3 separate regions of the Homo sapiens genome follow, and all the other regions are reported to be linked to region 1. Evidence: microRNA targets listed by miRTarBase, many of them from high-throughput screens and not tested one by one. Region 1 holds a microRNA gene; each other region holds the end of a gene's coding sequence.

Region 1 (3,354 bases):
TGGATCAGGTGTGAGGGGTGATTTGGGTTTTATATTGTAAAGCATGGACAGTACTGGATGAAGGAAGACTCCTTTAAGAAATGATTGTCAATACCCATGCACTGGGGTGAACAGACAATAGCCAAAACAGGAGATGGGCGGGTTCAGGAGGCATTAGACTTCTCTGCATCTTCTTGGTACTTGGTATAGGATGACTGCCCACCAGACCTTTGCCGAATGACTTTATTCACAGACTCTGTGAGATCGTGGTCCCTCTAGTTTATTGGTGGTGAAGAGAACAGGCAACCTGGGGCGGGCGAGGCCCAGTGATTGCCTGTGCCTCTTAGGAAGAGAGCTGTTCAGGTCTGTCTCTGACCTTTCCACCAACCCCCAATTCATCCTCAGCAGCTTACTGGGAACTCTAGAAAATTCTCAAGTCGACCTAGGGGAAATCCACAGTCTTTGAATGGAATATACGTGAGGGAGGAAGGGTGAGAGGCAGTGGTGAGTAGCCTGGGTTGATGACTTCCTCCTTCCTCTGTGAAGTCTAGACAGAGGTACAGGCGCATGGCAGGGGGCGACATAGTTTTGCTTTCTGCTTCTGCCAGTCTTCCAGTCATGCCTCCATCAGTCAATCAGTACCTTATGAGGACAGCAAGGGACAAAAGGTAACAAAGTCCCTGGTTTTAGATCCCTGGAGGCAGCCAGACTCGGCAGGGACAGTTGTGGCAATCCCGGCGGGAGCCTGAGTGTGGGGTACACCCCCACAGCAACCAGAGAAATAAGCTCTTCCTCTAATCTGGGTTGGATGCCAAGAAAGAACCCTCACAGTCAGATGATTTGGGTTTGAAGTCTGGTCTTGGCTGCTAACTGGCAGTATAACCTTGGCAAGTCTCGACCTCTGTGCAGCTTAGTTTCTTCGACGGAAAACATTTGAACACATTATAGCGGTCCTAAGGGGGAAGCCTGGGCTCATTTTGTTCTTCCTGAAGAGGATAAGGCCCCACGTGTCATTCTGGAGATGGGTTTTGGGAACTTGGTTGTGAGGTGCTCTGGCTACTGGCTTGGGTAGGGGTAGAAAGGGTGAGGTGAAGTTTCCTCTAGGAATCTTAACTTCTTCTTTTTAAAAAGTTTTATTTATGATTGACATATAATAATTGTACATACTTATAGGGTACAGTGTGATGTTTCAATGCATGTATACATAGTATAATGATCAAATTGGGTAATTAGCATATCCATCACTGTAAATATTTATAATTTATTTGTGATGAGAATATTCAAAATCCTCTCTTCTAGTTATCGTGAAATATACAATGCATTATTGTTAGCTATAGTCACCATACTGTGTAATAGAACACCAGAACTTATTTTTCCTAACTGTAACTTTATACTTTGTTGATCAATCTCTCTTCGTATACCTCTCTCCCACTTCCCCTAAGGGTTACTCTGGTAACCATCATTCTACTCCCCATTTCTATGAAGTCAAGTTTTTTAGATTCCACATAGGAATGAGATCATGTGGTATTTGTCTTTCTGTGCCTTGCTTATATCACTTAGCATAATGACCTCCAGGATCATCTATGTTACCATAAATGGCAGGATTTCATCCTGTTGTATGGCCAAGTGTAAGGAATCTCACCTCCTGATCAGGGGTCTGAAGAAGAAAAAGAAAAGGAAAAATGTACTTGCAGATTTTAGTTCTGAAATACCAACCTTGAGCAAGAACCCACCAACTTCGGCCTGATACCTACCCTCTCTGCCTTCATGAACTGGGTCTAGCTTGGAGCCTTGGTAGGGAAGCAAGCTGAGGAGATAGGAGGACAAGTTGTGGGATGGGGCTGGGTCACAGGTGGAGTGTCTGCAACACCCTCATTAGGATAGAGAAGAATTTTTTCTTACCTGGAACATGGGTTAGGACAATAGAGAGAGAGAGAGAGAGAGAGAGAGAGAGAGAGAGGGATCAAAAAGAGAATTGCGAATATTTGGAGGCTGGTATCTGTGCACCCAACAAGGTGAGGAGAGGCCACATCCTCAAGGGCACGTCTTTGTCCTGAGAAATTAGGTTCTGAAGGCAGTGGAGCTCCTGAGGCTCTTTCAATTAGGTGGCAGGGTGGGGTAGGGTTGGTCAAGGTTCGCAGGGTTTAGGTGTCTCAGAGGACCCTGCAGCCATCTAGGCAAGATTTGGTTTGCCTAAAGAGGTTAGGGTTTAGAGGGTTTGAACAGCTGGCAGCTATAGGAAAGGGAGGGGGTAATGGACCTGAATGGCAAAAGTCAATCTGATTTTTAAAAATTGGGCTGTCTTCCTCTATTGAGGTGTTCATCTGCCTCTCTTAATCCAAGTCATAGAAGCACAGAGCCAGAAGAGGACCTAGAGATCATGTGGCCCAAACCCCACTCTGTTACACATTTAGGGAAAACTGAGGCCCAGTGGAGGGACCTGCCTCAGCCTCATGAGGCATAGGATGAATCTAGAGGTTAAATCTATCTGCCTGTGGCCCTGTATCTGAGGGGTACCTCCTTTCCAGTTCCTGAAAAAGAGCAAGGGTCCCATAGGTGGGAGTGAGTCCAAGTTAGGCCTGGGCATGGGAAGTGGGGAGTTTGATGCTGACCTAAGTCACTGACCTTGCAATGCTATGAAGGTGTTCCCTTGATGCTTCTGCTAAGAATGAGATCCAGACTCCATTTTAAAAGGTCACTTTTCTAGAAAGCCCCCATAGCACTTTAGCTCTGTATAAGGAATAGCAATGAAAAATATGAGTTTGAACTTGTAAAATGACCACCTAGAAATGCAAACTGAGATCTGTTAGAAACTTCCTGAAAAGCAATCTAGGAATTGAAACATGATGGCTGTCTAACTACCCCAAGCTAGAAAAGCCAAGAATTTCAAAGGGATACCTTAGCACCTGTCATGGCAGACTTAGCTTTGGAAAATAAATTCTGAAAGCTAGGTGACCAATGGCAATTGAAGGTACCTGAAATAGTGCTTGGGATGCAAAAACAAATCCAGGCTAGTGTGTGGTTTGTGATGTTAGAAATACTTGTTTTTCGGTGTTATAAAGAAATAGTACTTGAAAATACATTTAATTTTTTAGTAAGGACATTTTTATTTTTTGTAGAAATGGTATATTTGTCAGTAGTTTTGTCATGAGAGTATACTGAACAAAGGAGACAGGGTCATTTATAACCTGACGTGTCCACCTTACTGCTGTGTCTGGTTTTTATTGGCTGGAACAGGACTTTATATTTTATATTTGTTTTGATTGGTTAGTAACTTAGAACTTTTTAAAAGAGGCAAAGACAGAGGAGAACAAAAGAAGGAGGAAGTAACTTGTAGAATGTCCAGAAGGGTAAAAACATCTTTAAATAAGGAAG
Region 2 (3,000 bases), not on the chromosome of region 1:
CTAGCCCTAGCACACACATAATAAAAGATGTTCCATCGCTAAGATAATAAGCCCCTGTATTCCCAAGCAACATCTCACTTTCAGGCAAACAATGGTCTAGCAATCAAGCATTAAGGCACACACCGCATGTCACCTTGCACAGGTTAATCTCTTTCAGATTTCTTTAAAGGGATAGTAATTGTGCCTATTTCATAGAGTTGCTGTGAAAATTAAAGAACATAATTTATGTAAGGTGACTAACATGGGGTAAACCTTCACTAGCTTTCAATTGATATTAATCCAAAGTTCAGCACACCTTAATTTCTGTTTTACATTGAAATGAACACATGCAGCTTTTCCTCACAGTATGATTTTATCCTATGTGTATTTTTCTTCTTTCTCTTTCTGTTGGTTCTAGGTCAAGTCTGGATGATTACTGTCCTTCTGACCAAGTTGACACTATTCAAGAAAAGGTCCTCAATATGCTACGTGCCCTCTATGGAAATCTAGACCTCCAAGTGTATGCAGCAGAGTCTCCTCCATCTTGAAACAAACAAAACATTAGGCTCCTGTTGTATCTTGGTTTAGTAACAGGCCCTTAATTAACTTATTTGTACATGAGTCTTCCAGAGAACACTGTTTTATATTAACTTTCAGTTGAAATCTTTCAGATATTTTGAATCTCTGAACAACCATTGTCAGTTGTGAATGATGGTAAATTTTTTGGCATCAAGTCTCATAACCCCAACTGATAGAACTGTTGCTTATCTGTCTTCCTTAAGTATTTTTTAGGGTTTTGTTTTTTTTTTTGTTTGTTTGTTTGTTTGTCTTCACTTTTCCCCCAGGTCTGTTGAGCTGTATGAGATTCATTCATACTTCATTTATTCATTCAACTAATATTTGTTGAACACTTACATGTACCAGACATTATTAAGTGCTGGGTATATGGTAATGAACAGAATAGACAAGGCCCCTGCCCTTTTAGGGGAGACAGATGAGAAGTAAATTACGGGTTATGAGAAATGTTATGAAGGAAAGGACAACAACAGACATGTCTTAGTACTTAGGGTATCATGGCTTTATAGGAAAGTAACATTCTCTATCTTTTTTTTTTTTTTTAATTTTATAAAAATAGAGATGGGGTCTCACCATGTTACCCAGGCTGGTCTCAAACTCCTGGGCACAAGCAATCCACCTGCCTTCGCCTCCCGAAGTGCTGGGATTACAGATGTAAGTCACTACCCCAGCCAGAAACTAACATTCTCAAAAGCTACTACCAAAAAAACCCCACAAATTTGCCAATCCATGAAAGTATCATAGGAAGTCTACCTTTCCAAGGAATTTGGCATTGTGGCCCTGCTCTTGCCAAATGCTCTCCAGCATTGTTGGTATCAAGGTGGTCTGGTTGAGTAAACTTGACCAAACAAAAATTAACTGTTTTTTGCTTTTCTGTTTTTGTTTTGCTGATCAAAAAAGCCCTTCAGGGTCTCTTGTGCATCCAGGAGGTCATTGTAGATATCAATAATATAGTGCCTAAGTGCCACTTTATTGCCAAGTCTAGATTGATACTTTTTTCAGATAAACCAGCTTTTTATGTAAAGAGTAAGGGAAAAAGTTAAATCTTTAATTCTGACCTGCCATAAATACCCAAAGATATAAACTGTCTTCCACCACCCCCCTCATAACTAAGACATCCTTCCTGAGTCACTCTTAATCATGAAACTTGATTTTCTCAATTGGCCAGTCTTCTGATCTTTAGTATCTCTTTAGTTCAGTAATTTTTACCTACCTACTTGATTTATTTTCCTTTAAAAGGTGAAATGACATTTAAAGAAAAACAAACACCCATCATTCCTCAGTCCCAACACAGCAGTTCTTTTCACTCTTGCTTGTAACTTTCAGGCCTTACCCACATGTGTTCCTATAGAGTTGCATGTAGCTAAAATTATAGTGTGCTGCCTAACTTTGTGCTAATAACGAAGGACACACATTATCATTGCCTCACAGTGGATGGCACCTGACCCCATTTTTCCAAGGATTCTATTTTCCAGTGAATTTTTGTCACCGAGTTAATTTCCCAAGTCTGATAGCATGAATGCTTATTTGTGCTGTGAAAAGCAGAGCAGCCTGACTCAGCTTTCCATTTTCATAGGATAATATGTGCCAAAAAAGGTTTATTTTCTTGGTAAAATCAGAATTGTAGAATTGTGCTATTTTTAATTTTTAAAATTTTTGGTTAGAGCTTATAGACATTACTTTTATGATTATTTTGCGTGCTAAATAAGTTAAAGGGTATGTTTTGAACTATAGCACTAATTAATGTGTGTGATCCTAGTATGTTGATAGCTTTGATTTTGTGAGTGGTTTACTAGTCATTTATTATGATTCCCATGAACTCTGATATGATTCATTGTGGTTTTAACTCAGGTTGAATAAAAGCATCCATTTCTTTTATAGGAAGGTTTGTTTAATTCTCATGTTCTGTGATCATCTCTTTGAGAATAAAATTCAGTCCCTAATAGTTGAAAAGAATCAACTTAGTAAATTATGTCTTGCACATTCCAAATAGGAAGGTATTTACTTTATCAAGATGTGTTTCATTTGTGTTCTGAGTACCAGTGAGGGGATACCGTGGTACAGTGTTTTGAATTGTGTACTAATATCATTAAAGCATGGGATTTTAGTGGCTTTTTAAAAAATGTGACTTAAGTGTAAGCGTAGACTTTAACTTAATAAGTTGTGTATTTCCTAGTATCTACGGGGAAAAAATTTAAGTCCAGCCTTTCATAATAACCTTTTGACTGTCAATTTTAGATCTCTTTAGAAACATTTCCTATAGTTGGCCATGCGCGGTGGCTCACGCCTGTAATCCCAGCACTTTGGGAGACCGAGGTGGGCGGATCACGAGGTTAGGAGATCGAGACCATACTGGTTAACACGGTGAAACCCCGTCTCCACCAAAAATACAAAAAAAAAAAAAATTCTCCAGGCGTGTAGGCAAGCACCCGTAGTCCCAGCTAC
Region 3 (3,000 bases), not on the chromosome of region 1:
CACTTGATGGAAAACTATTGAGCTCACTCTTCTCATGATCACTGTTTGCTGTGTGTCCTGAGGGCACTAACTCACAGTGTCCTTTTACTCCCTCATCAATGTGTCACCTGGCCAATTCACTGAGCTCACTTTCTCTCTCTCTCTGTCTCTCTCTCTCACTCTCTGTCTTTCTCTTTCATTGTTTTCTACTTGGCCCTGTTCTATCCCAACATAAAGGCAATAATTTTTTTACCTCATTAATGGAACTATCCTTTTCCTTTTTTGACCACTTCCTTATGTTACCCCTGAAATCTAGTTGGGGCTCTGTGGTGTCTGATTTTCCCTGGCTGCTTCTTTAGTTTTGTCTCCTTTTCCAGGCTCAACGAGGTGCTGATGGAAGCAGAAGAGCCTGAAGTCTTGCAGGACTCACTGGATAGATGTTATTCGACTACTTCAACTTACTTTCAACTACATGCCTCATTCCAGCAGTATAGAAGTGCCTTTTACTCATTTGAGGAACAGGACGTCAGCTTGGCCCTTGACGTGGACAATAGGTTTTTTACTTTGACAGTGATAAGGCACCACCTGGCCTTCCAGATGGGAGTCATATTCCCACACTAAGCAGCCCTTACTAAGCTGAGAGATGTCATTGCTGCAGGCAGGACGTATAGGCACATGTAGGTTTGAATGAAACTGTAGTTCCCTTTGGAAGCCCAGTCATAGGATGGGAAAGTGGGCATGGCTCTATTCCTATTCTCAGACCATGCCAGTGGCCACCTGTGCTCAGTCTGAAGACGTTGGACCCAAGTTAGGTGTGACACGTTCACACGACTATGTAGCACATGCCGGGAGTGATCTGCCAGACATTCTAATTTGAACCAGATATCTCTGGGTAGCTACAAAGTTCCTCAGGGGTTTCATTTTGCAGGCATGTCTCTGAGCTTCTATACCTGCTCAAGGTCAGTGTCATCTTTGTGTTTAGCTCATCCAAAGGTGTTACCCTGGTTTCATTGAACCTAACCCCATTCTTTGTATCTTCAGTGTTGGTTTGTTTTAGCTGATCCATCTGTAACACAGGAGGGATCCTTGGCTGAGGATTGTATTTCAGAACCACTGACTGCTCTTGACAGTTGTTAACCCACTAGGCTCCTTTGAGTAGAGAAGCCATAGTCCTTCAGCCTCCAATTGATATCAATACTTAGGAAGACCACAGCTAGACGGACAAACAGCATTGGGAGGCCTTAGTCCTGCTCCTTTCAATTCCATCCTGTAAAGAACAGGAGTCAGGAGCCGCTGGCAAGAGACAGCATGTCACCTGGGACTCTGCCAGTGCAGAATATGAACAATGCCATGTTCTTGCAGAAAATGCTTAGCCTGAGTTTCATAGGAGGTAATCACCAGACAACTGCAGAATGTAGAACACTGAGCAGGACAACTGACCTGTCTCCTTCACACAGTCCACGTCACCACGAATCACACAACAAAAAGGAGGAGAGATATTTTGGGTTCAGAAGAAGTAAATGATAATGTAGCTACATTTCTTTAGTTATTTTGAACCCCAAATATTTCCTCATCTTTTTGTTGTTGTCATTGATTTTGGTGACATGGACTTGTTTGTAGAGGACAGGTCAGCTGTCTGGCTCAATGGTCTACATTCTGAAGTTGTCTGAAAATGTCTTCATGATTAAATTCAGCCTAAACGTTTCATCAAGAACACTACAGAGTCGATACTGTGAGTTTCCAACCTCAGCCCATCTGTGGGCAGAGAAGGTCTAGTTTGTCCATCAGCATTATCATGATATCAGGACTGGTTACTTGGTTAAGGAGGGGTCTAGGAGATCTGTCCCTTTTAGAGACACCTTACTTATGATGAAGTATTTGGGAGAGTGGTTTTTCAAAGTAGAAATGTCCTGTATTCCAGTGATCATCCTCTAAACGTTTTATCATTTATTAATCATCCCTGCCTGTGTCTATTATTATATTCATATCTCTACGCTGGAAATTTGCTGCCTCAATGTTTACTGTGCCTTTGTTTTTGCTAGTGTGTGTTGTTGAAAAAAAAACATTCTCTGCCTGAGTTTTAATTTTTGTCCAAAGTTATTTTAATCTATACAATTAAAAACTTTTGCCTATCACTCTGGACTGTTGGATTGTTTTTTACATTCAGCGTTATAATCTTTTGTTATGCTGATTGGTTTTGGTGGGTACTGATGCGAATTAATAAAAACATTTTCATTTCCCTGTTTATTTTCTAATCTCTTCCACCTTGTAGGCTATGTTTACCATATGTAGCAGAATGCATGTACTCCATTTCTTGGTTCTAGATATTTATATTCTTTGTGAGAGTGTGTGTGTGTGTGTCTGCGTGTGCCTCTGGCATTTAGGAAGGGTTGTGTAGCTCATGTTTGATATTGACTAAAAATGTTTCATAGTTTTCCCCCCTTTGAACTAGACACACTTCTAATATTTGGTTTATACGTTTTAAATTATGACTTTCAACATCACATATTTCCATATGACAGTCAATTACATGATGTGTTTTCTTTTTCCTACCTCCTTTACCTGCCACTTCTCATAATCGTATTTGAACCTAAACATACACCAGTGACATTCTGTGGTTGTCATCTTGCCCACACCTTGGTTTTTGGTTTAGATCCACAATTAAATATATTAATGCTCATGAGCTGTTCAAAAGTGAATGTCACAGTCATCACTTGCTGAGTGGTACTCATCCTAACAGAGTCCTCATGAGGGAATCAGGTCTCGCTGAGTTTAGCATGTTTAATAATCTTCCTCACGGTCTTGATACATGGATCGCATTACTGGATATAAGGTGTTTGCCCAAAATGATTTTTCTTGTGTTTTTAGGAGCTATTGTCTTCCTTGCGGGACATACATGGTGTATGTTCTCGTTGTGGGATTCTATTTTGTTCTACCAGGACCTATAATTTCTGCCAGTTACTTCATTTGTTCTCTTCACCATGAGTCTCCAGCGGATGCTTCCTTTGTCCATGCCTCCCC

The links. Region 1 holds the annotated microRNA hsa-miR-7154-5p (UUCAUGAACUGGGUCUAGCUUGG, at 1,744-1,766, shown strand). A microRNA usually pairs through its seed, bases 2 to 8, with sites in the 3' UTR of a target mRNA and lowers its output. Matches are read on the target gene's strand: a 7mer-m8 pairs with bases 2 to 8, a 7mer-A1 pairs with bases 2 to 7 and ends in A, and an 8mer does both.
Region 2: miRTarBase lists C5orf22 as a target of hsa-miR-7154-5p. Seed matches in the 3' UTR shown: 7mer-A1 at 1,694-1,700.
Region 3: miRTarBase lists NBPF3 as a target of hsa-miR-7154-5p. Seed matches in the 3' UTR shown: 7mer-m8 at 1,657-1,663.

Annotation. Positions count from the first base shown.
Region 1 is chr11:45,690,166-45,693,519 of GRCh38, reverse strand. MIR7154 (microRNA 7154) reads left to right here and starts at 1,744; the gene lies at 1,744-1,816.
Region 2 is chr5:31,552,376-31,555,375 of GRCh38, forward strand. C5orf22 (chromosome 5 open reading frame 22) reads left to right here. Exons shown (of 9, transcript NM_018356.3): 9 at 398-2,678. The coding sequence ends at 527. Among named protein-coding and RNA genes, the nearest start is that of C5orf22, 22 kb to the left of the region's middle.
Region 3 is chr1:21,482,787-21,485,786 of GRCh38, forward strand. NBPF3 (NBPF member 3) reads left to right here. Exons shown (of 15, transcript NM_032264.6): 15 at 357-2,114. The coding sequence ends at 600. Among named protein-coding and RNA genes, the nearest start is that of ALPL, 25 kb to the right of the region's middle.